4 separate regions of the Homo sapiens genome follow, and regions 2, 3 and 4 are each linked to region 1. The links come from fine-mapping of genetic effects on gene expression. A gene starts in region 1. Each other region holds a variant in brackets. All regions are shown on one strand. Distances are from middle to middle.

Region 1 (8,108 bases):
CAATGACTACAATTCTTTGAATGAGAAGTTCATTGAGGCTGCTCCATTCCATTACGGATGGCCAAGTAAACACTTATATGATTCACTTTCATTCCCTGTTTAGCAAATCTAGGTAATATTATTAACACCCCCAACAAATAAACTAAGTTTTCAACTGGCATAGCTTTAAGTGCCCCTTATACTTCTAAAGGTAGGGGTACCTACTTTTGGGGGCTCAACTCACCCCCAAATTCCTTCTTTAGAGAGGTAAGGAACAAAGATTAACAAGGCTGAAGAGTATAAACAGGTCGGAAAGCCTCCAAAAAGACAGAAATATTTGAAATCTACTAAGACAAGGATATCAATGTCTGGAAGAAGGAATTTAATAATTTCCAACATTTTTAACCCCTCTGTAAATATAAAGCTCCCTCCCATCGATTTTACATCATTTCCAGGTCATGAATAAACTTATGAACCAGAATACTCCTAAGAGCATTACAATTTCTCCACTGACGTTTTAAAACACAAGAACAACAATACAATAAAGAGAAAACTTTATTTTTAGGTTTGCAAAATCCTGTGTTTATTTTTCTAAAACTGAAGTCAAACAACTGAACCTGCTTTGTTTGGATTTTAGTAAACTTATTCTCTCTTAATCCTGGGGGACCAAACTCTGCCCAGAAGGAAATGAAGAAAAAGTCCTCCGTGCCCGTGCCATGCTGGAAAGTTAAAACACGGTGCCTCCTTTGGTTTTCTGTTCAGGCACATCTGAGCCTCCTGCTGCTGGTCACGGTTCACACTGCTGGAGTCATATCATATGACACCTGCCGTATGGCGGGTAGAAGCAAAGGCTGTCAACTGGCATTCATGTTGAAACTGGTTCAGTGTTTGAACTGCTAACTTCTGCGTGTAATGTTTAAGCAAAAGTGCTTAACCACAAGTTCAGTCTTAATCTCTCAACTAGCATTAAACCCTAAATGGAAACAGGTTTGTAATTCCTTATAAACATTAAGCCCTTGCGAAAAACCTATTCCAGCAATTTGATTTTTCAATAACAGGGCCTCCACACAGGCCAACTCTTTCTCTTTTAGTTGGGAAAATATGAGATAAACTTTAAATGTAGAAAAGCCCTTCCCACAATGCAAATGCGCAAAAGTCAGGGTAGAATAAGCAGGTGTTTTTGTTCTCAAATTCCTCAGGTAAATTTCTTTTTTTCCACTAAACTGACCAACCATAATTAACACTGCTGGGACTGCAAACAGAAAGAAGTCCTGCCATTAATCCCACTCAACTTAAACTAAGATTTTATTAGTTCACAAAAAAATACTGTTTTCAAAAGGCAACGTTTGTATTTTAACCCTAATAATTGACCAAGTAGGTATATAAATTGATTATAACTTCTCCCAATCCTATGGACTCTATGGAGAATTATGTGGCAGATACCATTATTCAACTTTTATGGCCCACCTCTTCCTGTCAGAGTTCACAGCTGGTTAGTGAAGGCAACAGTGGAAATAATTAAGCACCTTACAAACTCAGACTTAAAACCCAGCTCAACTACGACCTCTACTAAGAAATACTCTGCTTCCTTCTCTTTCCTGGCAGTCACTCCCTCCTTCGGGCTCTCCCAGTACTTACTCATCACATCCTATAGGATCCTTTCCCTATGTCTCCTAACAACTTAGGGCAGGGATCACTTTTGTTAATTTCTATATTGCTAGCAAGTGGGGCAATGCTTGGGACACAGCAGGCCTTCAGATCTTGTTGCGCAAATAACAACTATGAGGTTACATGCTATGAGGTCTGTAAAAAGAGGGGCAGAAGAAACCACGGCATTTTGCCTTGAAAGAAGCAGAAGGCTTTTCAAGGAATATTCACACTCACCTTGGAAGCGGAGTGAGATTTAGTACACAAAGATGGGCACTCACAGGAGGGAAGAGCCTCTGCAAGGCAGCAAAGAATGGAAGACCAGATGTGCGGAAGACAGCGGTGTATTCAGGAAGCAATCACTGAAGAGTAGACAATGGGAGGAGGCAGGCAGGTTGAGGGTACAGGGCCTATATGCCAGGTTAAAGAGGTTTCCATGGAATATTCCAGGCTTTGAGAAGCCCCTGAAGCTATTTCAGGCAGTGACATGAAGACTCATCCCTTTAGAGTCTTTGGTCAAAAATTATGAAAGATCTGGGTTTTCAAAGAATTTTGTCTACAGATGCCTATTATAGGTTATCTGAAGCTTGTATATATCCTAGGTTACGGACCTGCCCAACATTTTCTCACATATTTTTATGTATATATTTATATATATATTTCCGTCTATGCTGTTTTATTCCCCAATAGCAGGTGATAAAGGCTCATTTAAACACCTAGTGAAATTTTTATATCTGTTTTAATTTTTTTAAAAGGAGGTGAAGAATTTTTTGAAGTGAAAGTTAGAAAAAATACTTAAGATAAATATTCTGAACTCCTTTTTCATCGCTGTACTTATATACCAAGATTCTGGAAAGGCAACATCCCATCCCTGCGTCAGTAAGGTTAGACGCTGAGGGCCCACTTAACCTGGAGGCTTCCCTAAGTGACAAGACTCTCAAACTGGATGATCCAATAGGGAAGGTTCTAAGTCAAGGGACAAAACAAATCTCCTGGCCCTTCAAGTGCTTGGCCCAAGGAAAAGTAACGCCGAGCCCTGCGACTCTGCCAGGTATTTAAAAATGTAAGATAAGGTGATATTTGTGAGCCGGCCAGAAGGCAACGAAAGGCAGAGAGCAGATCACCGGCAGCCTCGGATTTCACTCTTGCAGCTCGGCCTGAAACAGAGGGAAGCATCGGCCCGGTGCAGGGCAGGAGGCCAGGGCACCCGCTTTCCCCGGGGAGCCGGACTGGGCGGCAGGCGGCGCACCCTGGCACGGAGGGAGGCGGGTACCCGGGCGCGCCGAGTGGCGCGGAGAGCCGGGCTGCAAGGCGGGCGTGGAGTGGCGGCTGTCAGGAAGAGAGGCCAGCATCCTCCCCGGCCTCAGAAAAGCACTGGGGCCTCCGCGGCTTCTACGTGGCCCCGTTACCCACGACGAGAGGGTCACGACGGGAGGCAGAGGAGCGGCTGCGCCCGCAGAGTCCCCCAGGACGCGGCCCCCGGGGCCCTGGAAACCCAGGGCGGGGCCCCCGCAACCACACCCCACCCGCGGCTGCCTGTCCGCGTGGCCACCGGCCACGGGCTGCGGTCCCGGCACGCGGGGGGAGGAAGATGCGGCGGCGCCGCCTGGTCCTCCGCTCCACCGCCCCGGCGATCCCTGAGATAAAAGTTTGCAGCATGCGGCTCGTCTGCAGTGCGAGTCACATCCGCCGCGCCGCCTCCTGCAGCACCAACGCTCATAGAACGAACAAATACATTAAAAATTAAAAAAAAAAAAAAAAAAAAAAAAAAAACTGTTGAAGCCAGTAGGCCCCGAAGCCGGCCTCTCTGCCTCCAGGGCGTGCATGCAGGCTAGCCCAGCATCCCGCGCCCCCTCCCGCCCGGCCTCGGCGCCCGGCCTGTGCCGGCCCCGCCGCGCCCGCCGCACTGACCGATAACCTCCTGCAGCTCGTACGCGTCCCTGCAGATGGGCCAGCCGACAGCCTGTGCCGCCGGGGCCGGGGCCGGGGCCGGGGCCGCGGGAGCTGCCGGGGCCGGCGCTGCTGTCGCGGCCGCCGGGGCCGCCGCCGCCGCCGCTGTCACCGGGGCCGCCTGCTGGGGAAGCTGGACGTGCACGGGCGAGCCGCTCGGCTCCGCCATGATGCTGCGGAGGAGAGCAGGAGGACGCGCCGGCCGACGGACGACCTTCCACTTGAAACTTCCTTTGCCTCGCCGCCGACACCTCTCGGCCGGCGCACGCCCTCCCCGCCCGCCGCCGCCGCCGCCGTCCCCGCCGAAGCCAGCTAGGAGGGGAGGGAGCAAGGGAGGCCGAGCTGGGCGGAGGGAGGAGGCAGCGCCGGCGGAGGCGGGGAAGGGAGGAGGCGGCGGCCGCTGCGCTCGCCGCGCGCCCAGAGCCTAGCGCGCGCTGTTCTCCGCCTCGGCGAGGGGAACCGCCGCCCCCCCTCTCCGCCGCCCCCTCCCGCTCCCGCTCCGCTGGCGGCCGGGGAAGTTCCCACCAAAGGAGTCAGGCCGCTTTGTGTGTGCTTTCGGGGCCACCGGCCCTGGTTCTCCTCCTCCCTCCCTGCTCGCCCTGCGCCTTGGCCCCAGACGATCAGGCTTGCCGGAGGACGCCCCCTGGGGACCCCGAGGGCGGGGTCGTTGAACGGCCGCCAGGTTCTCACATTCAGAATTCTCCTGCCACCAAAGAGAACCTGAAGTTCATTTACAAGTTGACGAGCGGGATACCTACATGGTGTCCCTTTGCAAGACGCCAGTTAGAAAATAACCCAAGTTGTAAGTTTCCGGCGCTTTACTTGCCGGTATCCCTTTCCCACCTTGCCTAATCTAATCGCAGTCCTTCTAGTTTTTCTTAGTAAATGAAACTTGATTCCTTAGGTCTCTGGCTGTTCAGACTTCATTTTTTCCAAGCCGCCTGGATCCCAGGGAGGCGATTTAAGGGGCTGTGGAATTAGAATAAGACATGCAGGAGAGGTTTAGAAAGTTTGCTCAAATTCTACACCCTTAATAATTGCCACGTTAGCCCGTGAGGACACTGAGGCCAGACATCAGGCGTTTCTTTAAGAGCGTATACTTGGTGGGGAAATAATTTATTGGGGCATGAATAAACTGTGTTGGAAGCTTTTAATTGCTGTTTTTTCAACACCCCAAAAATAACCTCGTCTGTAAAACTGCTATGGTAAAACCATAGGTTTTCCTAATTATAGGTGTCATATTTAACAGTGAATGTTCTCTGTGTTCCCTCCGTGGAGGTGACCAGGATCCACCGTTCTTGTCTCCAACTGAAACGGGGCAGTAAACCAATAGTATTGGTCGTTTGGCCAAGATGATCTTGTCTGGTTCTCATTGCTAGGACTGCTGAAGAAATAGGTAAGAATAATGAGGATGTAATAAAAACTCTAGGGATATCATGATTTTGTCTCCCGAGTGTATGTACAGAAATCTCACTAAAATTTTTGAAAGATTATTCAGAAGAAGCCCAGAAATTTATTAGGAAAGTTAGTTGTCTAATCAAAACATTGATGTCCACTGAAGATGAGGGCACTTAATCTCTTGGAGCATTACAAAAGTTGGAGTAAAGCAGCTACCTCGCTCTGGTCTTGAAGCAGAAGTTCATGCTGAACTAAGTGTACATTCTTTGATGCGGAGGACTTCAAAAACTGTGTCTTGTCATGTCTGTCAAGAAACAGAGCCCTTCATAAACAAATTCTAGGCCTCTGAGGAACAGGGGAGCTCTTTATACCAAGCCATGGCTGCTGACCTCTTCAAGTGCTGCCTCCACCCTACCCCAAAGAACTTTTAAGGACTGTTTTTAAAGGAAAAGAAAAATGATCAAATGAATATGACTTCCATTTTGTCATATGAATTTCTATTTTTGACTTTCAAACCATGAAGTGGGATTATGAAGACCAGGAATGTTCTTGGGACTTAGTAGGAAAACATGATGCCGTCAAGATCAATATCACAGAATTGAATCAAACACAGATCAATTAGTCTCCCACAAAAAGCAACTGTTCCCCAGTCACAGACTACATGTCGGTCTCTAGTCAACCGCTTTCCAAATGGCTACCAGGATGAAGACTTGCTTGAGTGGATGACTCAGTGCACATCCATCATTTCTACAGTAAATCGGTTTAAAGAAGAATGTCCCCTGGCATTGCTCTTTGGCATCATTTTTATAAATGAAGAACAGAATATGAATAATATTTTAAAATTATACAAAAGCATTAGAGTTAATGTTTCTGTAAACAATTGGGTAAAATGGTACTTAAAACTTAGAAATATATGTTTTTTAGAAGTATTCAACTGATATGCACTTTTCCCGGAAAATCCATTACTAAATTTAAATTGAAAGATGGGGATGGAGGCGGGTGCCTTTAAAATATAAACAAGGTTTATTTCAATGCATAAAGAGTACATTCAGTGAGCGATGTTAAAAATAGAAAGGAAAAATAAGGGTCTAAATGTTTTTAAAGTGTATCCAACTGCCTCATGATGTGTCAGGGTTTCTCAATCTCAGCGCTGTTTTGTGTCAGATAGTTCTCTTCGTTGTAGAGGTCTGTTCTCCTGTGGTATGGTCTGAATGTTTCTGTCCCCCCAAAATTCATATGTTGACACTTAATCGGCAGTGGAATAGTATTAAGAGCCTTTAGCAGGAGATTGGGTCATGAGGACAGAGCCCTCCTGAGTTAGATTAGTGCCCTTATAAATGAGGCCGGAAGGAGCTTGATGAGGATGCAGCTAGAGGCATTAGCTATGAAGTAGAGGGCAAGCCCTCAGTAAATACCTAATTTGCTGGCACCTTGATCTTGGACTTTCAGCCTCCAGAACTGTAAAAATGAATTTCCGTTGTTTGTCAGCTACCCAGTCTAAGGTATTTTGTCATACCAGCCAGAGCAGACAAAGGCACCCTGGCCTCTATGCACTAGATGCCAGTGGCAACCCTGCTGCTGACATTGTGACTATCAACAATGCCTCCAGACATTGCCAAATGTCCCCTGGAGGGTAAATAATGCTTTAGATGAAGTAAGTATACATTTTCATTTTATAAACAGATTATTGCAGTGGTTATTTGTATTACAAAGAGGTTTCGTAGAGTTCCATTATTTATTCATAAACCCTTTGAACATCTAAGAGAGGATGTGTAGTGAAGTGGCCAACGCCTTGAAGAAAGAAAGTACTGGATTCAAATCTGGACTTCGATGTTTTGTTTTGTTTTTTGAGACAGAGTCTCGCTCTTGTTGCCCATGCTGGAGTGCAGTGGCACAATCTCAGCTCACTGCAACCTCCACCTCCCAGGTTCAAGCGATTCTCTTGCCTCAGCCTCCCAAGTAGCTGGTACTACAGGTGCCCACCACCACGCCCAGCTAATTTTTGTATTTTTATTTATTTTTTTGTTTTTGTTTTTGAGACAGAGTCTCGCTGTGTCACCCAGGCTGGAGTGCAGTGGCGTGATCTCAGCTCACTGCAAGCTCTGCCTTCTGGGTTCACGCCATTCTCCTGCCTCAGCCTCCTGAGTAGCTGGGACTACAGGCACCCGCCACCACGCCTGGCTAATTTTTTTGTGTTTTTAGGAGAGACGGGGGTTTCACCGTGTTAGCCAGGATGGTCTCGATCTCCTGACCTTGTGATCCACCCGCCTCGGCCTCCCAAAGTACTGGGATTACAGGCGTGAGCCATTGCGCCTGGCCTATTTTTGTATTTTTAGTAGAGACGGGGTTTCGTGTTGTATTTTTTTGAGACAGAGTCTTACTCTTGTCACCCAGGCTGGAGTGCAATGGCACGATCTCGGCTCACTGCAACCTCTGCCTCCAGGGTTCAAGGTATTCTCCTGCCTTAGCCTCCTGAATAGCTGAGATTACAGGTGTGTGCCACCACACCAGCTAATTTTGTGTTTTTAGTAAAGATAGGATTTCACCATGTTGGCCAGGTTGGTCTCACACTCCTGACCTCTCAGGTGATCCACCCACCTTGGCTTCCCAAAGTGCTTGGATTACAGGCGTGAGCCACTGTGCCCAGCTCAACAGTTTTTCTAGAGACAAGGTCTTGCTCTGTCACCCAAGCTGGAGTGCAGTGGCATGATCATGGCTCACCGCAGCCTCGAGCTCCTGGGCACAAGCAATCCATCTTCCTCAGCCTCCCAAGTATCTGGAATTACAGGTGTGTGCCACCATGCCCAGCTAATTTGTATTTAATTTTGGAGAAGCAGGGTTTTGCTATGTTGCCCAGGATGGTCTTGAACTTCCTGGTCTCAGGTGATCCACCTCAGCCTTCCAAAGTGATGAGATTATAGTGTGAGCCACCATGCCTAGCCTCATTTTTTTTAAGTCTCTGCCTTTGGACTTACTTCACTCTCTGAGTCTCAGTTTTCTCCTGTGCAAAAATCAGTACAATAATAGCTTCCACATGGGTTGTTATAATGGCTTAGGATAATGGATGACACATAATAGAAGTTTAACAAAATGGAAACCACCACCACCATCATCATCATTATTCCTGTCTGCCA
Region 2 (8,108 bases), 64 kb before region 1:
AATGGCAAAAAAAATGGCTGAGACCTCTAACAGAATACCACAATCAAACACAAGTATCAGCCAGGTGCGGTGGCTCACATCTGTAATCCCAGCACTGTGGGAGGCCGAGGCGGACAGATCACCTGAGGTCAGGGGTTCGAGACCAGCCTGGCCAACATGGCGAAACTCTGTCTCTACTAAAAATACAAAAATTAGCCGGGCGTGGTGGTGCATGTCTGTAATCCCAGCTACTCGGGAGGCTAAAGCAGGAGAATCGCTTGAACCCAGGAGGCGGAGGTTGCAGTGAGCCAAAACCACACTGCTACACCCCAGCCTGGGCAACAGAGTGAGACTCTGTCTCAAAAAAATACAAAAAACAAAAACACAACTATCACTGGCAAATTCTTGAGTGATACATCCAAACAGTACATATATTTAAATGCACACTCCAAATTTTTTTTTTAAATGTTAAAGTACACTTATGCATAGCCACAGAATTTCAGGATTCCTAAAGGGATCTTAGAAGAAAACTTCCAATTCAACTCTTTTTAAATCGCGCAGAGCTGTTGTGTAACTCTACTAAAGTGAAAACAAGTTTAGTGGCAGAAGCAGGACCCAACTCTCCCCACAGTTTATAAAATGCGTTTTCCAACTCAGAGAAAGTGACCTTGAAAACTGGTTGGGTGACAAAGGCACAATATTACTGGTCACTAAGATAGCAAGCAACAGACAAGTAGCATGCAGCAGGAATTTCAGTAAGAGCAAAGCACAGCTGAAATTTCAAGGCCGTTAAAAGCCTTGAATGTATGCAAATTTCAAAAATTAACATTAAATTGTGGAAGCCCTGGTTCTCTTCTGAGTTTTAGCCGGCAATCCATTGCTTCAATAAAACCCAATGAAATCTATGCATTGTGTAGCCTAATTTAAAATGTAAGGCCAAACAGATCTGGAAAAGTACAGCTTTATCCTTGTACTTAATTTATACTATAGTGTACTGTAATTAAGCCTAAAATAAAAGCTATATTCTGAGTAAAGACAAAAAGCTGTTGTTAATGACATTCCATTCTCAATGTAGACTGTAACAAAAGGCTTCTTCATTTGCAGCCAACTGTCATTATACTTTGTAGCTTGTATGGAGCTACTGGACTAATATTTGTACTGGGATTAGTGTGGGGATAACCAATCAGTTAACTCCTCCACTGCAGTTTTCTATTATCCTCAAATAAATGGCCAAAAGGGAAAAAAAGAAAATTGGCCGGTAGAACAACAACGATATTTATGAGATTAAACCCTCAAACCCTTCACAGTTTGCCGGGCAACTAATAACCATTTGCCAAGCTGTTCATTTAATAATGAGTCAGCTAAGCCAAAAGCAAATGTTCCTTCAACCAACCATTGCTACTATAGTCATATCCACACTGACAAGCTCCAATTATTTATATAAAGTACTCATTTAGAATAAGAAGTACAAATTGCCACGTTAAGAAAAACAAACTCCTCTCATTAGCCAAATGCAAGCTACAGAGCATTTAAAAAAAAAATAACTCAAATTTGTGTGATGCTATAATTTATGAAAGCTAAAATGACCAACAAATAGTTTGGGGGACAACTTCCATTTGTGTCACACATTCTAGATGGAGGGCCAGAAGCTCACCATCCAAAACTGCAGTCAGTAATCCTGTCATGTTAGGTCACGCCACAGTGTGTGCCCTTGATACAGCAAGTGGAGTGCCAACGCTGAGGCCATTCTCACCTTGGGATTATTCGAACTGAGCAAAATACTGTTTCTCAAAGCAAGGGAAGGTGTTCATTATACAACACAATCATAAGGTACAGTCCCATTAATCTGGGGAGCAGGAAGTGGTAGGGGCTGCTTTCCAAGAAATGCATATGTCAAAACTGGAGATAACACCTTGCTCTTCTCCCAACCATCCCCATATACCCATAGATTAAGAAAAGCAACCAGCAGGTATTCCCTGCACTGTTACTTACTAATAGTTCATCCATACTGGTCTGGCATTTTTCCAAGTTGATCCGTTTTATTGCTACACGTTCTTGCCTGGGTTTGCATAGGGCTGCCTGAACCACAGCAGTAGCTCCACTGCCTGCAATGAAATAAAAACAACATCAGCGATCAAATGGCACACTGTGAGGTTACTATCTGTAACTATTTTCCTAAAGATCAATTTTTTTAAACTCTTCTACTCAGCGTATTCAGAACATTACCATTTGACATCTTTTTTTTAAAGAGTTTCTTAAATCCTAAAATAATTATCTGGAGGAGAAAAAAAAAACTGCATTTTCCAGACAATGTATGTCTGAGGACACAGGGGACAAGGGACATGAGCATCTACATACAACCTTGCATGAAAGCCATTTCCATCCTCAGTTCCTGGTATTTTCTAGCTTGAGTGCCTTTAAAATATCTCAAGCTCTTCTTCCACCTCAGCCCAAACCAAACCACTCTGGTCTAAGCTACTTCAAGGCTTTCATGAGAAGCTGAGATAATTGATGTTTGAACACTCTTTGGGCTTATTTCTTCAGAGCTTGCTCCACAATGAGAAAAACAAGAATCAACCCTAGTATTCTCATGTTGAAAGCACAACTTTCAAGGATGCCAAGCAAAATGATGCAAATGTGTAATTACAAAAGCTCTTGACATTCATATAAATTTTCTATTTCTAAGGTTTCATGATCATTAGCTAATGCACTCAGACTCCTAAGAGACAGAGTCATGTCATTATCCATATTTTATAAGAGCAAAATGTAGACATGTAATGATTTGCGGCAGAGCACAAAAGAACTCCTAATCGGCTTTATACTCCATAGGGGCAAAAAGGTTTTCAGGTTAAGGCATCTCAATTCTGCAAATAACACCAAAACTGCCATTCTCATCACATAAATCCTCTACCACTGCAAGATAGCCAACAACAGAAACAGCCTGCACTCAGGATTGTGCAAAGGTGGTCAGAGGTGACAATCTTTCTCCCTAAAGTTTTTCTTCAGGTAATACTTCTCAAATGATTCATCAAATAGCATCATAAAAGGGAAAGCAGGGGAGTATTTGGCAACAAGAGAGATCAGTATTAGCCTTCCTAATTTATGTGATAGAAAGGCATGACATTTCTAGTGCGAATCAGGGCTTTCCCACCCCAAGGAAGGGCCCAAATGGGTGTTTACAGGGGTGAAGCTCTGCCCTTTCTTCCGCCCTGTGGCCTCATCATCAGGTTTGGCCCCCGACTTGGCAACCCCAGCAGATCACCCTACTCCTCCAAACCCAGGTCTCCAACTTAAAGACTACCATTCCAGGGAAGCCCAATTTGTGTTCACTGGGAAAGAAAATCCACACACACATACTGACCACCCACTGCACAGTAGACACTTGACTCCTTATGAGCCTGTACATTTTTATTACTAGCCTCATTTTACATGGGAGAAAACCGGGACTCAGAAAACTTGCCCAAGGTCACATAGAGCTAATAAGTACCTGAGCCAGTATCAGCATCACGCCTGCCAGACTCCGAGATGTGTGCTTTTGTTCTACTTCCCACAAGCCAGAGCACATGCTTCCCTTCCTCACTTGTTTTGGCCTTGCTAGGAAAAAACTTTCTTCCATCCTATATGGTTCAACAGAAGACAAACAACCCAGACCAGGGTCTGCATGAGCCTCATTTGCTAGAGCTGTTTGGGAAGAGAGTGCTATGGACAGGTTGCTTCAAAGGGCCTTCCTCTCCCTAATCTCACTGCTCATCCATCAGCTGCTACCCCATTGGCTGCTACTCCAGGTCCCACTAGTTTGGCTTCACTGGCCCTGCAGATCACAGCCCACTGGGTTCAATCCAGAATGGTCCAGATGGCAGAGCCAAACAATACAAAAAGTCTGCTGATAGCAAAGTATATTTTCCAGTCTCCGGAACAAGACACTATCACTGAAGGGAGCCACAGAGAAAGTGCTATGCAGCTGGTTAGCACTGGGCCTGGTACCCAGCAGAGAAATCAACTAACATCTTTAGCTGCTGGTGGGAAACCATCCTCAGCTCTACCTGCAATAAATCTCCCCCCAGCTCAGCTTCTCCATCCTTAATCTACATTCCAGAACATTCACAAATCAAGGAGTTTCAAAAACAGGAAAGAATAAATTAATTCCCAGAAAGGACAAAACAAGCGTATGTAATACAGAGATACCTCTCATAGTTAAGTCCTTGACAGTAAAAGTCTCCTAACCTCCAAGGAACAAAAAATAAGAATTCTAAAAACATGGAGGGGTAGGTGGTGAGAAAAATCTTTTATTAAAGCTTTACAGCTAGAGAATTGTTACTGCTTTACAACTACAGCTAACTAAGGAACGACTGGCTACTTCTCATCTCTAGACAGAATTATGAAGCTTTGTGACCTGAGATCATTGTCACAACATGGATGGATTTAACCATTCATTAAACAGTTTGGGAGATTCTACTCTAAATCCAAAGATTTCCCTTCAACTATAGAAGAGACCAAGAACAAAGTTAAAGGTGGAAAGGCACCTTAGAGAGCATCAAGTCCAACCCACCCCCTCACTTTATGAATGAGAAAACAGGGTCCTGTGAAGGATAGGGATGTGTTTCCTGCAGCAATTGGAAAGCACAGGATTAGGACCCTAGGCATACTTATTCCTTATCTACCATTCTGTGCACCAGGTTGGTGTTTTTTCAAATTGCCAGTGAGGATCCACTGGTCACAAAATCAACTAACTGGGTGGAGGCCAGCATTGTTTAAGGGAAGCATCAGAATGTAATAAGGGTAAAAACTGCTTTATGAAACTTTTGTTTCACTTACGCCCAAGCTTTAGTATGACATGTTTTACTGTAAGTGATGATCAAAAGTTTGGAGTCTGCTAGTACTAGATTAGGATTCCCAGGATTAGAGTAAATCCATGCTTTGAAAGGAAAGGAGGTGACCTAACTGCATAATTCTAAAGGACATTTAGAAATAATACCAACACTGTCTTGCTTTAAGGGTTTTTATGCACTTTGCTGATTAGTTTAAGAGGAAGCTAAAAAATGTGGGGCTTGTAAATACAGGAA[C/T]TGGACAAGTGTTAGCAACATGAAATAAAATAAGAGCAATTACTATGCTGAACAGCACCTTGTATTTATTTTGAACAATATATGATACTGACACATGACTCATTAACATTAGTAGCATATTTTCAATGAAGTATCATGCACCCCTTTTGGAATAAGAGTTCTTAACATTTTATGAATTTCTCATTTTATTCCTGACTCCTATTTCAAGTGCAATAAATCATTCAATAGGATTATGGCCTGTATGCACATATGCACAAGTTAAGTGGGCACGGCTTTAAATCTTTTCAGTTCACTCTTTTAAGTCACTCTATCTCAATTCACTTTTGCTAAGTAATTCCCGACTAAGAACAGCTACTTGGAAGTTTTAGATAGTGATTATGTCAATGGCAATCAGAGGTAAGAGATTGCTCACGTTCATTACCATGATGCAGATTTTTCCTTTAGTTGACACCTCTTCTCATTTTCCCCTCTGTACTGCTGCTGGTATTAAGGTAAATAACCAGAACACTGCATACCTGCATTTTATACTTTCAGTTATCCAAAGAAATATTTCATGGAAATATAATTTAGTATTCTAACTTTGCATTTCACTAAGGTCTATGTGAAATTAACATGAAAAACTACAGTGTTTATTTTGCAAAAATCACTACTATTGTCAAATGCAGTTTCAACAGTATGTTCAAAGTCCCTACTCCCATGACTCACACAATAACTTCCTCTTTGCATTTAGTGCATTTAGTGCAAAAAAGCAGCAAAAAGATATTTGCTTATATTAATTCATCAACAAACAGTAATTAAATCCCTGCCATGTAGCAGGCAGTTCACTAGATAATAAAGTGCCAAAGGTGACCATTCCTGCTTCAAGTGGAATAAATCCTTCTATAGGATCACTTCCTCTGCAGAAGTTAACAGGGATGACTAAAATGCTGTTGTGGACTGAATGTCTGTGTTCCCCTAAAATGTCTTTGTTGAAGCCCTAATCCCCAATGTGACTATATTTAGAGATACAGTTAACAGATAATTACCACCTTTATGGAGGTAATTAAAGGTTAAATGAGGTCATCAGGACAGAGCCCTGGTCCAATAGGATTAGTATCCTTACAAAAAGAGACAATAGAGAGCTTACTTTCCCTCTCTGTCCTATGAGGACACAGCAAGAAGGTGCCTGTTTACAAGCCAGCAAGAGAGCCCACCAGAAACTGAAGTGGTCAGCACATTGATCTGGACTTCCTAGACTCCAGAACTGTGAGAAATACATTTCTGTTGTTTAAGCCACTCAGTATATGGTATTTTGTTACAACAGCCCAAGCAGACTAATACAAAAGCCTTGAAATGTCTGTTCAAAGTCATTCTTCCACTAACACCTATGGCAGAGAATGCCATACTAATTAGAAGTTCTTAGAAGCTTCCTGATTAAGTCAACAGCAAATGGCAAGATTCAACTGAAAGGCCTCTGGTAGCTCATTGTAGTTCCCATCTTAGGTTAGTAGGAGCCTTGAAAAGAAGGTTAGACAGGGATTCTATCCAAACGTGGTATTGATTCCCTCTGTGACTTTCGACCTAACTGCTATCTAGACTTCAGCTTCCTTAATGGGCATAATAAAATACACCTTTAAGGCTTCATAACATAATATATTTCACATCCCTGGAAAACATCAACTCAATAAATGTTAGGCTCTCTCTCTGGGACTCATTTCTCCATCTGTGACATAAAGGAGGTAAACTATATCTACTGTTTATATGGCACCCAAGGGAAAAGAGGGCAAAGTGGCTCAGGGTCAGAACTGAGTTTCATTTTGCTTAGCACCAGGAAGATTAGACTGGTTTAAAAGAGAGGCTAGGAGAGCTAAATTTGGAAACCAAAGAACTAAATGATTTCTAAAGTCTGATACAGCATGATGAGCATAAGAGTTTAAAATATAAGAGACAATCCAATTCAGAAACAGCTGTGAATTAATATTCCATAGCAAAGATTGTCATGTATAATGCACTTTGATATCTAACCTTAAAAAGTTATTTTAAGGCCGGGCATGGTGGCTCACGCCTGTAATCCCAGCACTTTGGGAGGCCAAGGCAGGTGGATCACAAGGTCAGGAATTTGAGACCAGCCTGACCAGCATGGTGAAACCCCGTCTCTACTAAAAATACAAAAATTAGCCAGGCATGGTGGTGCATACCTGTAATCCCAGCTACTCAGGAGGGTGAGGTGGGAGAATCACTTGAACCCGGAAGGTAGAGGCTGCAGTGAGCTGAGATCATGCCACTGCACTCCAGCCTGGGTGACAGAGTGAGACTCCATCTCAAAAAAAAAAAAAAGTTATTTTAAAATATCTATGTCAATCCAGATTGCATGGGTTCATATCCCAGACCTGCCACATACTAACTGCTTATGCTTGGATGACTTGCCTAACTTCTTCATGCCTCAGTTTCCTCATTGGTAAGACGGCAATAATGCTACTTCACTCATAGAGTGGTTGTGAGGATTAAATGAGTTAACACAAAAAAAGTCTTTGAAACTGTGCCTAGCACATAGTAAGCACTAATTAAATCTTAGCTAGCGTTGCTCCTTAGGGAAATCCCCCCAGGTCAACTGGTGTCCTGTCAATCTGTCATTTTAATACCACGTAATATTTCATAGTATTAATGTACCATAATTTATTCAGCCCTCCTTCTGTTGATGAGTATCCCCTTTATTTCTAGTTTTCATCCCCATATGAACAATGTAGCAATAAACATCTAGTACTTTTTTTAAAAAAATTAGTCCATAAGAACTTTACGTTAAAGTTAAGACGTCAATTGTCCAGTAACCCCTTCCCATAAATGGCAAGATTTTTTTCAAGGCATCACATTAGCCTGTAACATTAGTTATGGCCCCTGGAAGGAAGTTCTAATCACCATATTATATTTAAATGAGAAGCACAAAGTTGGAACTTTAATAAGAGTTTGACCATCTCTTAGCACGTGCAAGAACTCCTTAAGTATGCTCAGCTGTCCTTTGCCAGTGAACAGAGTCAAGAGTGGGCTCAGGCTTTCTTTTTAGAGGTGCTAGCTGGTGATGGATAGTAA
Region 3 (8,108 bases), 62 kb after region 1:
TATTTCTTTTTCTTGTCTAATTGCTCTAGCTAGGATTTCCAGTACTATGTTGAATAACAGTGGTAAAAGTGGGCAACCTTGCTGTATTCCTGAGTTTAGAAGAGAAGCTTCCAGTTTTTCCTCATTCAATATGATACTAGCTGTGGGTCTGTTGTATATGGTTTCTATTATGTTGAGGCATGTTCCATCTATACTCAGATTTTTGAGGGGTTTTACCATGAAGGGCTGTTGAATTTTATCAAATGCTTTTTCAGCATGAATTGAAATGATTATATTGATTTGTACTTCATTCTGTTGATATGATGTATCACACTGATTGATTTGCATATGTTGAACCATATTTTATCCCTGGGATAAATCCCACTTGGTCATGATGAATGATGTTTTCAATGTATTGTTGAATTTGGTTTGCTAGTATTTTGTTGAAGATTTCTCCATCGATATTCACTGAATATATTGGCCTGTAGTTTTCTTTTCTTGATATGGTATCAGGGTAATACCATCTTCATAGAATGAGTTTGGAAGTATTCTCTCCTCTATTTTTCAGAATAGTTTGAGTAGGATTGATATTAGTTCTTCATTAAATGTTTGGTAGAATTCAGTAGTGAAGCCATCAGGTCTTGGGGCTTTTCTTTACCGGAAGACTTTTAATTACGGCTTTGATCTTGTTACTTGTTATTGGTCTGTTTGGGTTTTGGATTTCTTCATGGTTCAATCTCGGTAGGTTTTATGCATCTAGGAATTTATCCGTTTCCTCTAGATTTTCCAATTTATTGGCATATAGTTGCTCGTAGTAGCCACTAATGATACTTTAAATTTCTACAGTATCAGTTGTAATGTCTCCCTTTTCATCTCTGATTTTATTTGAGTCTTCTCTGTTTTTGTTTTTTCTTTGTTAGTCTGGCTAAAGATTTGTCAATTTTGTTTATCTTTTCAAAAAAACAGCTTTTTGTTTCATTGATCTTTTATATTGTTTCTTCATTTCAAATTCATTTATTTCTACTCTGATCTTTATTATTTTTTTCACCTAATTTTTGGTTTTGTTTGCTCTTGCTTTTCTAGTTCTTTAATATGCACCATTAGGTTGCTTATTTAAATTTCCTCTTTTTTGATGTAGGTGCTTAGAGCTATAAATCTTTCTCTTAGCACTGCTTTTGCTGTATCCTATAGGCTTTAGTATATTGTGTTTCCATTATTGTTTGTTTCAAGAAATTTTTCCATTTCCTTCTTAATTTCTTCATTGACCCACTGGTCATTCAGGAGCATATTGTTTAATTCCCATGTGTTCATATAGTTTACAAAATTCCTCTTGTTGTTGATTTCTAGTTTCATTCCATTGTGGCCAGAGAAGAGGCTTGATATTATTTCAATTTTTTGAATGTTTTAAGACTTGTTTTGTGACCTAATATATGGTCTATTCTTGAGAATAATCCATGTGCCTGAGGAGAAGAATGTGTATTCTATAACTATTGGCTGAAATATTCTGTAAATATCTATTAGGTCTATTTGTTCTATAGTGCATATTAAGTCTGATGTTTCTTTGTTGATTTTTTCTGTCTGAAAGAGCTGTCTAATGCTGAAAATGGGGTGTTAAAGTCTCCAACTATTATCGTATTGAGGTGTATTTCTTCAGCTCTAATAATATTTGCTTTATATATCTGGGAACTCCAGTGCTGAGTGCATGCATATTTACAATTGTTATATCCTCTTGCTGGGTTGACCCCTTTATCATTATAATGGCCTTCTTTGTCTCTTCTTACTGTTTTGTTTTTGAAATCTATTTTATCTGATATAAGTATAGCTACTCCTGCCTCTTTTTTTGGTTTCTATTGACATGGAATATTTTTTTTCATCCCTTTATTTTCAGTCTATGTTTATCTTTATAGGTGAAGTGTGTTTCTTGTAGGCAACAGATCATGGGGTCTTTTTCTCATTCATTCAGCTACTCTGTGCCTTTTAGTTGGAGAGTTTAGTCCATTTACATTCAATGTTATTATTGATAAGTAGGGACCTACTTTTGTCATTTTGTTATTTGTTTTCTGATTGTTTTGTGGTCTTTTCTTCCTTCTTCCCTTCCTTCTTGTGAAGGTGATGTTCTCTGGTGATAGGATTTAACTTCTTGCTTTTTCTGTGTGTGTGTATCCATTGTATGGTTTTCAGTTAGAGGTTACCATGAGACTTGCAAATACTATCTTATAACCCATTATTTTAAACTGATGGCAGCTTAACATTTATTGTATAAACAAATAAGCAAAAACCAAAACAAAACAAAGCAGAAACTCAGTACTTTAACTTCATCCCCCGACGTTTTAGTTCTTTGCTGTTTCTCTTTAGGTCTTATTATGTCTTGAAAAGTTGTTGTAGTTATTATTTTTTATTCGTTCATCATTTAGTCTTTCTACTTAGGAGTAGTTTATACACAAGTACAGTATTATAATATTCTGTATTTTTCTTTTTAACTTTCTTTCTTTTTTTCTTTTTTTTTTTTGAGACAGAGTCTTGCTCTGTTGCCAAGGCTGGAGTGCAGTGGCATGATCTCAGCTCACTGCAACCTCTGCCTCCTAGGTTAAGCAGTTCTCCTGCCTCTCGAGTAGCTGGGAGTACAGGCATGTGCCACCATGCCCAGCTAATTTTTTGTATTTTTAGTAGAGACAGGGTTTCACCGTGTTAGCCAGGATGGTCTTGATCTCCTGACCTTGTGATCTACCCGCCTTGACGTGCCAAAGTGCTGGGATTATAGGCATAAGCCACCATGCTTGGCCTGTATTTTTCTTTAAGCTTAATATTACCGGTATGTTTTGTACCTTCAGATTTTGTTTGTTTGCTTGTTTTGAGACAGGGTCTTACTCTGTCACCCAGGCTTGAGTGCAGTGGTGTGATTATAGTTCACTGCAGCCTTGACCTGCTGGGCTTAAGTGATCTTCCCACCTCAGCCTCTTGAGTAGCAGGGACCACAGGCACACACCACCACACCCAGCTAATTTTTGTATTTCTTGAAGAGATCGGGTTTTGTCATGCTGCCCAGGCTGGTTTCAAACTCCTGTTCTCAAGCAATCCACCCACCTTGGCCTCCCAAAGTATTGGGATTACAGGTATGAGCCACTGTGCCTTACCCAGATGATTTCTTATTGCTCATTGACATTTCTTTTTTTTCACATTGAAGACCTCCCTTTACCATTTCTTATAGGATAGTTCTGGTTTTGATGAAATCCTTCAGGTTCTGTTTGTCTGGCAAGGTCTTCATTTCTCCTTCATGTTTGAAGGATATTTTCACCAGATATACTATTCTAGGATAAAAGGTTTTTTTCTTTAGTGCTTTAAGTATATTATGTCACTCTTTCCTGGCCTATAAAGTTTTCACTGAAAAGTCTGATGCCAGATGTATTGGAGCTCCATTGTATGTTGATTCTTTTCTCTTGCTGCTTTTAGGATCCTTTCTTTATCCTTGACTTTGGGAGTTTGATTCTTAAATGCCTTGAGGTAATCTTCTTTGGGTCAAATGGTGTTTTATAACCTTCTTGCACTTGAATGTTGATATCTTTCTCTAGGTTTGGGAAATTCTTTGATATTATTCCTTTGAATAAACTTTCTATCCCTTCCTCTTTCTCTACCTCCTCTTTAAGCCCAACAACTCTTAGATTTGTCCTTTTGAGGCTATTTTCTAGACCTAGTAGGCATGCTTCATTCTTTTTTATTCTTTTTTTCTTTTGTCTCCTCTGACTGTGTATTTTCAAATGGTCTGCCTTCAAGCTCACTAATTCTTTCTTCTTCTTGATCAATTCTGCTATTAAGAGACCTGATGCATTCTTCAGTATGTCAGTTGCATTTTTCAGCTCCAGAATTTCTGCTTGATTCTTTTCAATTATTTTAATCTCTTTGTGAAATTTATCTGATAGAATTCTGAATTCCTTCTCTGTGTCATCTTGAATTTCATTGTATTTCTCCAAAATAGAAATTTTGAACTCTCTGAAAGGCCATATATCTTCGGTTCTCCAGAATTTGTCCCTGGTGGCTTATTTAGTTTGTTTGGTGAGGTCCTATTTTCCTGGATGGTCTTGATGCTTGTGGATGTTTTTAAGTGTCAGTTAGGTATTTATTGAAGTCTTCACAGTCTGGGCTTGTTTGTGTCTGTCTTCT[T/C]GGCAAGGCTTTCCAGGTACTCAGAGCAACTTGGTCCCCAACCCCAATAACACTATGGTTCCTGCAGACTCACAGAGGTACCACATTGGTGACCTTGGATAAAATTCAGAAGAATAATCTGGATTACCATGCAGAGACTTTTGTTTTCTTCCCTGACTCTTTCCCAAACAAATGGAGTCTCTCTCTTTCTCTATCTCTGTGCTGAGCCACTTGAAACCGTAGGTGTGGTGATATAAGCACCCCTGTTGCCACCACTGCTGGGACTGTACTTTGTCAGACCTGAAGCCAGCACAGCACCGAGGTTACCCAAGGCCCACTGTAACCACTGCCTGGCTACCACCTAAGTTCACTCAAGGCCCCAGGGCTCTGTAATCAGCAGGTGGTAAAGCCAGCCAGGTTTGTGCCCTTCCCTTAAAGGCAACAAGTTCCTCAAGGCCCTGGGCAGGTCCAGAGCTGTTGTCTGAGAGCCAGAGATTGGAGTAAAAAACCTTAGGATTTTGCCTGATGTTCTTTTTTACTGCAGCTAAGCTGGCACTCAAACCAGAAGAGAAAATCCTTCTTGCTCTTCCTTCCCCTTTCCACAGGCAGAGGAGCATCTCCCTGTGGCCACTGCCACCACAGGCCCAGAGGTGAGGGGTGTATTCTCCCACACCACTGCAGATGTTCACTTAAAGCCCAAGGGCTCTTCAGTCAGTTTGTAGTGAATGCTACGAGGACCAGGACTCATCCTTCAGGGTAGTAGGCTACCCTCATGCCCTGGGCAGGCCCTAAAATGCTATCCAAGAGCCTAGGCCTGGACTCGAGGACTGCAAGAGCCTGCTTGTTGCTCTACCCCACTGTGGCTGTGCTGGTACCCAAGGTACAAGACAAAGTCCCTTTTACTTTCCCTCTGCTTTTCTCAAATGGAAGGAGTCTAAAGGAGTTTTTCACTGTAGCTGTCACACCTGGAAATGTGCCACGTCACACCTGAACTCAGCACATTCTCAAAGCCCAAGGCCCACAGTGTACTACTTGGGTGTTGCTGCTGGTTATTCAGGACCCAAGGGCTCTTTAGTCAGCAGGTGATTAATCCTTCCAGGACTGAGTCCTTCCCTTCAAGGCAAGGGGTTCCCATTTTTCCAGTGGGTTCCCAGAGTGTGTCTATAAATGTCCATGATCCAGGGTCTGGAATGGGGGGATACCTCATAACTCTGCCCAGTGCTCTATCTTACTGTGGCTGAGCTAGTATCCAAGATACAAGATGAAGTCCTGTTTACTCTTTTATTTCCTCCCCTTAAGCAAAAGGAAGGAGTCACTTTCATTGCTGTGAGCTGCACTGCTTAGGGTTGAAGAAAGAGTGGCACAAGCACTCTTTTAGCTGTTCCAGCTGGTGAGGTACCAGGTCACCCTAGTCCTCTTCTCTGAGCCCAGCTCAACACTAGGAGTTGCTTAGGAATTGCAGGCCTCATGTCCTAGACTGTCTTTCAAGTTTACCTAAGACCCAAGAGCACTTTGGCCTGCGGTGGCAAGGCTTGCCAAGAAACTCAAGTTCTGACCACCAGATGGGCAATTCCCCTCTGGCTAGGTCTGGTCCAAATGTCCCATCCTTGATCAGGTGCTGGCTGAACCCAGCATGGTTTTGTTTTCCTCTATGACAGGGCAGCAGTGAGTTCAATGTAAAGTCCTCCAAGTGCACAGACTCTCCACCCTGCACAGCTGCTGCCCAGGGATGGGGGAGGGGTGGTGTTGGTGATTCAAGACTGTCTCTCCAACTCTCTTTAATGCCTCTTTTGGTGATATGATATTAAAACCAGGTACTATGATTTCTCACCTGATTTTTGGCTCTTGTGACAGTGCTTTTCTGTGTGCAGATAGTTGTTAAAATGTGGTGTTCCTGCAGAGGAGACAAAGGGCATAGGCTTCTATTCTGCCAGCTTTTTCTGCCTCCTGGAGTATTTCTAAATGTGGGCTATTTATACAAAAGCTCCGGGGTGAGCTATTAGACTACAGCTGCCTATGTTCTTTATCTGTGCTGTTTAATATGGTAGCCACTAGCCACATGTGTTGAACACTTGAAATGTGGCACATGTAACTGGGAAACTGAAAATTAAATTTTACTTAATTTTAAGTAATTTCAATTTTACTTAATTTTAAATAATTTAAATTTAAATAGCACATGTGGCTAGTAACTACTGTATTGGGCAGATAGAGTATTGGCCTTAATTATTCCTTAAGAAAGAAATTAACCAAACTTCATTTCTAGAATGAATCTTTTTTCCTGAACTCTGAGTTTAAATGTCAGTTTAATAGACTCCTCTTTAAAAAAACAAAACAAAGCAAAACACTCCATCTGGCATTTTTTAAAAAAACTAAAAAGATGTGTTTTTGTTCTTTTATCAAAACAAAAGCTTGCTATAAACTTGAGAACCAGATATTTTTGCTGGATGAGCCTAACCCATCAGCCATTCCCCCTTCCACAGTGTGGCTTTTATAAGTTAAACATTTGCAGTGGTAACATAAATAATTTCTCTCCAAAATTAACACACACTGAATTTTGAGTGCAGAGAGACAGTCTCCACACTCCACCCCTCCTTAACCCATCTTTCTGTCAACATGACCTGTCTCACAGAGCTGTTCCATGAATTGATTCATTTATGAAATGTGCTTTTTTTGCCCTTAAAAAGAAGACCTTACTGTGTATAGAAATTGAAAATTAAAAATAAATGTGAACTCACTTGGTTTCTTCAGACTATCTCTTTGATAACTTGCCTTCAACTAAAACAGGACTGAGTTTGGTTAATAGTCTTATCCAACAGACTCTGGTTTTTGTCTCATCCCAAAAGCTAAATATATATATAAAGCTCAATCATCTTTATAGGAGATACTTTAATTTACCACAGAGCCACAGTTTTACCCACAGTTATTTTTAGAAGCACACTCATATTGGACAATTGTATTCTCTGCCACAAGAACTAAAGTTAGGTGCCAAAGATTCGTTTTTCTTCTCTGACACTCACTGGGCACACATTCTCTAAAATTATTTTTTGAATGTCTGACCACTCAGAAATAAATCCAATGGCCAAATATAATTTTGAGGTAATTGAAGTGAATCTGGAAAGAAAAATGATTCGTTTTTGATTCTGTGATAAAAAGGCTAAGATATTTCATTTGGAAAATAACATATTTAGGAAGTCTAATTTGTACAACTTGTAATAAAAAGGTCTTTTAATAAACAATTGACATACCTGGGTTTTAGTAAACATACTTTAAAAACCGAGTCTGGAAGAACATGTTTGAAAAGAATTACAATTTAAATTTAGTTAGTGGTTTGTACAATGAAGTATTTTCCACTCCGATGAAAACTTACAGCTAACTTAAAAAAGAATATGATATTTTCCCCCAGACTCTCTAATATAGCGGTTTGAGAGATTTGTCACGAGTGTAACAATAATTTATTCAAGAATACAAAGCCTATGCAAGTCTATATATAGTCTAGAAAAGTATCATGCAAAATCATGTTTAATTTAAAATGCCTGCTACTGAAGAAGGAAAGTCATATATCAGAAATGTACCAAGGGGATATGTGAGTAAACAAGTGCTATGAAATTCAGGCCGATGCCTTAGGAGTTTTCTCCTGTGAGTTTGAATATTAAAAAGAATTATGCACTGAAGGAAGTATATTTGTTCCAAAAGTTAATAACAGTGCGTGACTGGCTTGGTCTCTAAGTCCAAAATAAGATCGATTAAATCTTTCATCCATACAATATGGGTAAGGACAAGTGCATGAGAAACACATAGATATACATTATTTATTTCTATTGTACTTAGCACAGTGGGATCTGTGCCCTTTAAAAATTAACTACTTAGACACTGAGGTGGGTAATTTGAAGTCAGTGATGGATTTCTTTTACAGTATGTTTCCTGTCTTCACCAAAGAAGTGATAGGAATAAAGGAACTCAAATAATAGCAAGAATTTTGCCTAAGGGGTAAA
Region 4 (8,108 bases), 130 kb before region 1:
AAGGAAAGAAATGGTACACTAGGATTAGAGGGAGCTGAGAGGCTGAATAAAGGCCACCTACCGTAGGGAAGGTCAGCACCTAGTAGGTTACCAGGATGCTCGGGGAGCACTGCATGGACAGATGGAGGAGGAGGAGGAGGCAGTCGGGAGCTTCTCTCAGCAAGTAACACGCCACTTCAGTTCCAGAAAAGCTAGCTCATGCACGCAAGCTTTTGGGAAAAGTTAGCAAATTTCCCAAAGGCAAAAAGGAAGCACATAATATGTTTGAAGACTATCCAGACCTCACAAATCTAACTGGATGTGATTTCCAGTAACAATTAGTTTTCTACAAACTAAATTTGTAGAAACAGTATCTCTTACAATAATTTCAGAGTATGTGTCATTATTTCTAAATATCCAAAACTGGACCTCCAAGTCTGTGAAAGTTTACACAGCTCACTGTCTTTCAAGATCAATCTAAAAATAAAGACATTCTCCCTAAATGGGGATCAGCAAATTACAATTTCCAGAGTGGATCCTCTCAGCTCCCAGTCAAAGGCAACCAGAAAGGAGTCACTTTCCCAGAACATATGCTTTCAAAAAAAAAAAAAAAAAAAAACAACAACTCAATTCACCAAATGAATTGAAAGTAACTCTGTAAGATGCTTTTCCCCCTTGCTCTTTCCTCTACCCTCACCTCTGCCTAATTCACCCCCAGTGCGAACACCAGTCAAGCCACAGACACAGAGCAAAAGGAAAAAATCTACGGCTGCAAGGCTTTTTACAGACTGGTAAGCAATTCCTGTCCAGATTCTTAGTCAATGAACTGTTCTAATAGCACCCCCTAGTGACCAAAAGCTCTTTTCTGACCAAAGGAACTCTCAGTTCTCAAATAACTAAAAAGCAAAGAATTTAAAATAAAAAAGCAGTGAAAACACCAATGAGCTCACACTCTGTGAACGCCTGTCCCTGTAACAGCCCCAGTGAAATCAGTAACTTTAACCTCTCTGGCCTACTGTTCTCTCAGCTCTAAAATAGGAAAAATAATATCCTCAACCACCCTTGCCCTCCTCCCTGTGAGCATGTGAGTTCCTCAATGAGATTTATTCCCAAGGCACATGGTCGGTTTTAAGCGAGAGGATGGGAAAAGGAAACACAAAGTGGAGAGAGGACATGTGCACTCAGGCCGATGTGGATCACTGGGAGTATTTTATATTAAACCCATAATATGCACGGTAACTGCGGAAGTGGGTCCACTTCTCCTTCACTGTTATTATTGTACATGTTGACTCTCTTCTACCCGTATTTACCAAGCTCTAAGGAGAACTGCAGAAACCAAAGAATTTTCTAAAAATAGCTTGAGACCACAAAATACTGGAAGCTCTCCAATCCCATCTTCAAAATTGAGATGTTTGTTTCTGACACGAATTATGTAAAATGCAAATGGTAGATTGCTTTGATTTGCTAATAGAAAATATAACTTAAAAATAGTAATAGTGAAAAGTCGTTAAACCATCACCCTTCAATCTCCTGCCCAGTAAAGTAGCACCCTAATTGACTAAGGTGTCTCTTGTTCATGGCTCAGTAGGGACCTAACACCCCTTTGATCCCTCAACTCCAAGTCTGAGGCCTTCGACAAAGCCAAAACTTTTGCTCAGTTAGCTTTCCACAATGGCACAGACTTAAAACCCATTGCTGCCCTCTACTGGGAAAACTTGGAACAAAACTAACATCATTCCATCAAGCATTTGAAATCACTCTCTCTTCTCTGCTTTAATGATAATGCATAACCTTCGATATTTTATAAGTTAATTATAAGATTCCAGGAGGGGAAAAAAGCAATTCTGTAGAAACTCAGGGTAATTTTCCCTCTTTATCGACTAAAAGAAGAAACTAAATGGTAACAAACTGGGATACTGGCTTTGGACTGTTAGGACATGATGATGCAGTTGGCCTTGGTTAAGGCTCGACCTCCTTAGGCCTTAATTTTCAGGCCTGTACACAGAAGCATGGAAAACTAGGAGATATTTGTGGTTCTCAATTTTAAAATCCTGTAACCCTTTAGGGATAGCTTAACTCACTTTTAATAGATGGTTTTTCCTTTTCTGTTGGTATTTCAAAATATTTATAGCTTTTTAAAAATCATTCTTAATAGTCTAATGTATCTTATCCTCTGGCCTAACCTATTTAACATATCTTATACTCAGAACTTTACTGATTGTTGTATGGCTGCAGTAATTGAGATAAATGTGACGTAAGCATCTAGCAGGATGCATAAAGGTGCACAATAAATATCGTTTTTCTCTCTTCCCCCTTCACATGTCCCCCATCTACCAGCTTCATGACCTTTCCCGTAGCTGTAGCACAGATGCTATGCCCACATACCAAAGCGCTTATTCTCTATTACTCTTTGAGTTTTGCATGTCTTGTGACGTTTGTGCGTTCTTCACAGAAAGGTGAGTTTCACTGTCTGTGCTATGTCCTTGTATCATGTGCACCTGAGTGCCCACTACTGGTAGCAGTGGTTGTAATGGAAACAGCTGTTCTAGCAGCAGCAGAAATGGGAACAGCAGCAGGGGTGCCCACAGCTGTGGCAGCAATCATAAATGTTACAAAAACAATCTGGACTATAATAACTATAGTAATAAAAGCAATATATGTGATTATTAAAAAATTTTGCTATAACCTGTGCCACTTATTATTTTGTCCCAACCACTATTATATTATGTATTACCTAATTTAGTCCTCCCAAACATAGCTATTATTACCATTACCACTTCATGAGTGAGAAGCTGAGCTTCTGACGGTATCTAACAACTGTTGATGCTAACCAAACTCTCACTAGCCATCTCTCTCCCCAACATAATCTCCAAAGCCTTTTTGTCACCTCCTTCCCTCTACACTTGCTAGAACCCTGGCAAACTTCCCAGATTCCTGCAATGATGCCTGCAGCATCTCCTAGTGCCTGTAGCATCTCCTAGTGCCTGTGAATAGCACAGACATCCTCCTCACACAATTTAAATGGTGGCCGACTCACTCTGAGAATGACAAAT[A/G]CGCTCCCATTTTCCTGTGTACACCACTTAACTCTGCCTACCTTCTCCATCTATATTTCCTTCCTGTCCTCTCCGTTCTCTTCTTCTTCATTCTGAGGTATGATTTGGTGGAAAGAGCATAGATTGAGAATAAGAACTGGAGTTCACTCCTGCTTATTTGGCCATGTGACTTTGGGCAGGTCCTTTTCACCTCTCACATTTCCATCTGTAAAGTGTGACAGTAACACCTGCTCTACCTGTCTTCAAGAACAATTGTTTGGGACAAATATGGAAGCATAAATGAAAGTGATCTGAAAGCTGTGAAAGAATATTGGCTGTGTTTGTATTTAATTCTCACTACTCTTAGGCTCTTCACACATACACGCCCCTTCTCAGGGCAGGGAGGGTTTACTGTAGTGAAAGAAAGCCCTGGTTCTCACCCACTGCCAGCACCTTGATGGATCGGAAAAGAAAACATGAAGACAGGTGAATAGGCAATGGCAATGAACTAACTACTGTAATTATTTTCCTTCTTTCTGTAGGCATCCATAGGCTTTTCCTCCATTTCACCCAAATTAACGGCAATGCAGAAACAACCTTCAATACCCATCTGCACCCCACCCCACCTACAGGACACTCTCTTCACTCCTGATTTCACTACATACTTCTAAAATGTCCAGTCTTCCGTAGCCACAATAATCATTCTCCTTATTTACATGACAATCACACTGCCACTGCTGACTGAGCACCTGCTATGTGTCAAACACGGCACCAGACATCCTGCACAGATCATCTCTCATCCTCACAGCAACACAATGTAAGTATTGTCAGCTCTGCCTTACAGGTTAGGCTCAGAGAGATTAGGCAGCTCACCCAACAAAAGATACAGATATAGCTCTTGCTGTTTCCAGACCAGGCATAGAGACTGGGGCAGCAGGTGCACCTCCACTTCCTGCCTAAATCTGCTAGCAAAGTGGTTTGTATTGTTTTGGTTTTTGTAAAATTTTTATTTTCGTTTCAGGGGCACATGTGAAGGTTTGTTTTACAGGTAAATTACGTGTTGTGGCGGTTTGGTGTACAGATTATTTCATCACCCAGGTAATAAGTGTGGTGCCCAGTAAGTTGTTTTTCGATTCTCACCCTCTTGCTATCCTCCACCCTCAAGTAGGCCCTCATGTCTATTGTTCCCTTCTTTGTGTCCATGTTTACTCAGTGCTTAATTCCTACTTATAAGTGAGAACATGCGGCATTTGGTTTTCTGTTCTTGTGCTAGTTTGCTTAGGATAATGGTCTCCACCTCCATCCATGTTGCTGCAAAGGACATGATCTTGTTCTTTTTTATGGCTGTGTAGTATTCCATAGTGTATATGTACCACATTTTCTTTATCCAGTGTACTGTCATTTTGGGTTTGATTTTGTTTGAGATAGGGTCTTGCTCTGTTACCCAGGCTGGAGTACAGTGGTGTGACTATGGCTTACTGCAATTTCAACCTCCTGGGCTCCATCAATCCTCCCAACTCAGCCTCCTGTGTAACTGGAAGCACAGGCACACACCACCATGCCCAGCTAAATTTTTTTTTTGTAGAGACAGAATCTTGCCATGTTGCACAGGCTGGTGTTAAACTCCTGGGTTCTAGCAATCCTCCCATCTCAGCCTCTCTAAGTGCTGGGATTACAAGTGTGAGCCACCACACTCAGCCAACAAGGTGTTTTTATACACAAGATTTCTATCATTCTATCTATCAATAAAATTCCTCATTAATAGCCTATGAATGTAGAGCCATGACATAAAGTATAAATGTTTCCTTGAAAAAAGATTAATGATTCAATACAGTAAATATATTCACTTTATCTTTTAATGTTTAATGTAATCAGTGAATGTAAATAAATCCATCCTATTAAGAAGTGATACTTGTGTTTACAATAAAGAAACTGGAAGGTCCCACCTTATGCATATGATCAAAGTGAACGTTGCCAGTAAAGGAATAAATCAATACCATGTGCCTCTTAATATGATACAGAGAAGAACCCAACATCACTTCTGAGGTATGTCTATCAAAGAGTGCATAAACTGAATCTGATCATTCAGAAATATCACACAGACCTAAACGGAGGGACATTCTATAAAATAACTGGCCTATACTCTTCAAAGGAGTCACAGATGGGAAAAGAAACACTGTTCTAGATTAAAAGAGACTACAGGAGGTGTAACAACTCAATAATTCTGAACTGAATCCTGGACCAGATACATGACATGAATGGGAAAATTGGCAAATGTAGCAAAATTCAAATAAGATCTAAAAAATAATAGTATTACATCGATGTTCTTTTCCTAATTTTGAAAACTGTACTGTTGCTAGGTAAGAGAGTATCCTTGTTTTTAGGAAATATACAGTGAAGTATATTTAGAGGTAAAGGGCATTCTGTCTGCAACCTACTGTGGAATGTTTCAAAATAAAGAGTAAGAGAAAACACATACGAAAATTCTTGGCACTATTTTTCTAACTTTTTTGTAAGTCTGAAATTATTTCATAAGAAAAAGTAAAAACAAGCCAGGCACCAATGGCTCATGCCTGTAATCCCAGCACTTTTAGAGGCCCAGGTCAGAGGATCACTTAAGGTCAGGAGTTCAAGAGAGCCTGGCCAACATGGTGAAATCCCGTCTCTTCTAAAAATATAAAAATTAGCCGGGCATGGTGGCGGGCACCTGTAATCCCAGCTACTCAGGAGGCTGAGGCAGGAGAATCGCTTGAACCTGGGAAGCGGAGGTTGCAGTGAGTGGAGATCACGCCATTGCACTTCATCCAGCCTGGGCAAAAGAGCGAGATTCCATCTCAAAAAAAAAAAAAAAAAAGTTAAAAACAAACAGGACAAGTTCTCAACACTTGTAAGTATTAAATAAATGTGAATTGAAATATTCCTACCCACTGATTCCTAAGCATATCAGTGGATCCAGTGGGGCCAAGGGCCTTGGGGCCTTGGCATGAAACCAATCTCATAGCCTAATATTAGAAATTCTGGGACCCACAAATAACATCCCAGTCTTTCCACTTCACAGCGGTTCCATCCAAAGACAGCAGCGATGTGATACCCTTTACCTCCTTCTGATAATGACTAAACATTGTACTGTTTAGTTAATTGCTTACTTAATTTCATGATTAAGAAAGTTCAAGCAATAACCCTCCAGTAAATCTACTTCCAGTGAAAACACAGGCAACCATAAGAAGGGAAAGAACTGCCTATTACATGTTTCCTCTTCATTCCCTCCTATGGCCAATATGTTTTTTGGATGAGCAGTGAGCATTCAGACATTTGCATAGCTACGAGCCCCTTGCCCTCTGTCCTGCCATATGTGGGTTATATTTTTTATTTCTATTTTTTTGAGGCGGAGTCTCGATCTGTTGCCCAGGATAGAGTGCAGTGTCACGATCCTGGCTCACTGCAACCTCTGCCTCCCGGATTCAAATGATTCTCCTGCTCAGCCTCCCGAGTAGCTGGGTTTACAGGCAAGTGTCACCACGCCTGGCTAATTTTGTATTTTTAGTAGAGACAGGGTTTCACCATGTTAGCCAGGCTGGTCTTGAACTCCTGACCTCAAGTGATCCTCCCACCTCGGCCTCCCAAAGTGCTGGGATTACAGGTGTGAGCCACTGCGCCCAACCCATATGTTGGTTTTAGAAAGCCACAGAAAGCATATGAATATGAGTGTGAGTGTGGTGCCTCAAGTATGTTATCACTAACATAAAACTTAGACATCAGCCAATTCTGAGGGTTAAATGTTCCTGTAGAAGATGCACACAGATTATGAGACCATCATTCTCAGCAAACTAACACAGCAACAGAAAACCAAACACTGCATGTTCACTCATGAGTGGGAGTTGAACAATGAGAACACATGGAGACAGGGAGGGGAACATCACATACTGGGGTCTGTAGGGGGGTGGGGGACTAGGGAAGGGACAGCATTAGGAGAAATACCTAATGTAGATGATGGGTTGATGGGTGCAGCAAACCACCATGGCACATGTATACCTATGTAACAAACCTGCACGTTCTGCACATGTATCCCAGAACTTAAAGTATAATAATAAAACAAAAGAGTTGATGTGAAACATGGGTAAAAATAGCAAGATACTGTCTGTAATACAAAGAAAAGGATATAATAAGAACTGATTTTGATAATCAAAAAAAAAAAGAAGATGCACACAGCCCTAAGCATCTACATTCAATTTTAACTGAACCATTGACTCCCTTCCCCACCTAATGAATTCAGTACAGTAAAAGATGGAACACCACGTGGTTAAGCTTTCAAACCCCAAGACATGGCTGGAGACAGGTCCCTCAGAAAGTCACAGGAGAGGCAGCGATGGCTACAAAGCCTTTTATTCTCATGCACAAAGATAGTGAAAACTTGAAAAAAAAGTTATACAGCTGCACTTAGCTCTGTTCTCATGGGTCATTACTAGCATGTTCTCATTTAGAATATATAGAGTGTCTTGAGGTCCAGGAACATCCAATCTTATATTACCCTTCACCACATGCCTGGGCCCCTCAGACTAGAGCCAAAGAAAATCAAGATGATCCCTAAACAACACTGTCAGCAAAAGAACCCAGAATGGACCAAATATTCTGCCTGTAGGAAGAAAATAAATATCCTCAGTTTCTACAATTACCACACACCCAAAAAAAATGTTTTGCATACTAAATTACCAAAGAGGCCATGTCGATCTTTTTCCATTTTCTATTTTTTCGTGATTTAGAGGAGTCAATCCGGATGAAGACAAGATCACCTACCCTCGTGGAATTATGTGGCTCCCAACAAAAACATCACATTTTGGCCAAACATGAGTATGACGGGCCTCTGCTTCTCTCCTGCTAAAGGGCAGCACTGGTGGGCTCCATGGGGCTTTCTAAGAACAGCCACAATACCAGCCCCTCTTCTCCTTTAAATATGAAAATTGTTCACATTAAAGAAAAATGCACATTGAAAATTATCTCTTAATGTTGGTTAGCAGAAGAGAGGAGAAGAGAATGCTGTTTATGACAGCAAATTTCTAATCAACATGGTTGCCTCCATGCCCAAGAGCCCTGCCCACA

Alleles and levels. Alleles are on the strand shown, and positions count from the first base shown. SD is a standard deviation of normalised expression in the study named. Not every link is listed here.
As copies of C replace T in region 3, the expression in caudate of the gene that starts at base 3,905 in region 1 goes down (small effect, 0.33 SD a copy in GTEx).
For the expression in prefrontal cortex of the gene that starts at base 3,905 in region 1, A is the high allele of the variant in region 4 and G is the other (small effect, 0.29 SD a copy in CommonMind).

The links. PIP is the estimated chance that this variant, and not a neighbour inherited with it, causes the effect.
Region 2: its variant is fine-mapped to the expression of STK39 in monocytes (TOPMed, PIP 0.97).
Region 3: its variant is fine-mapped to the expression of STK39 in caudate (GTEx, PIP 0.96).
Region 4: its variant is fine-mapped to the expression of STK39 in prefrontal cortex (CommonMind, PIP 0.95).

What each region holds. Positions count from the first base shown.
Region 1 is chr2:168,243,691-168,251,798 of GRCh38, forward strand. It overlaps STK39 (serine/threonine kinase 39), which reads right to left and starts at 3,905. Exons shown (of 18, transcript NM_013233.3): 1 at 3,538-3,905. The coding sequence starts at 3,745. LOC107985959 (a long non-coding RNA gene) reads left to right here and starts at 4,271. Exons shown (of 5, transcript XR_007087282.1): 1 at 4,271-4,378. RefSeq lists silencers at 2,791-2,990, 3,011-3,100, 3,191-3,240, 3,601-3,650, 3,861-4,110.
Region 2 is chr2:168,180,007-168,188,114 of GRCh38, forward strand. It overlaps STK39 (serine/threonine kinase 39), which reads right to left. Exons shown (of 18, transcript NM_013233.3): 2 at 1,972-2,084. Among named protein-coding and RNA genes, the nearest start is that of STK39, 64 kb to the right of the region's middle. The variant C/T (reference allele first, on the strand shown) is at 5,043.
Region 3 is chr2:168,305,635-168,313,742 of GRCh38, forward strand. No RefSeq gene overlaps it. Among named protein-coding and RNA genes, the nearest start is that of STK39, 62 kb to the left of the region's middle. The variant T/C (reference allele first, on the strand shown) is at 4,138.
Region 4 is chr2:168,118,026-168,126,133 of GRCh38, forward strand. All of the region lies in intron 10 of STK39 (serine/threonine kinase 39), which reads right to left. Among named protein-coding and RNA genes, the nearest start is that of STK39, 130 kb to the right of the region's middle. The variant A/G (reference allele first, on the strand shown) is at 3,033.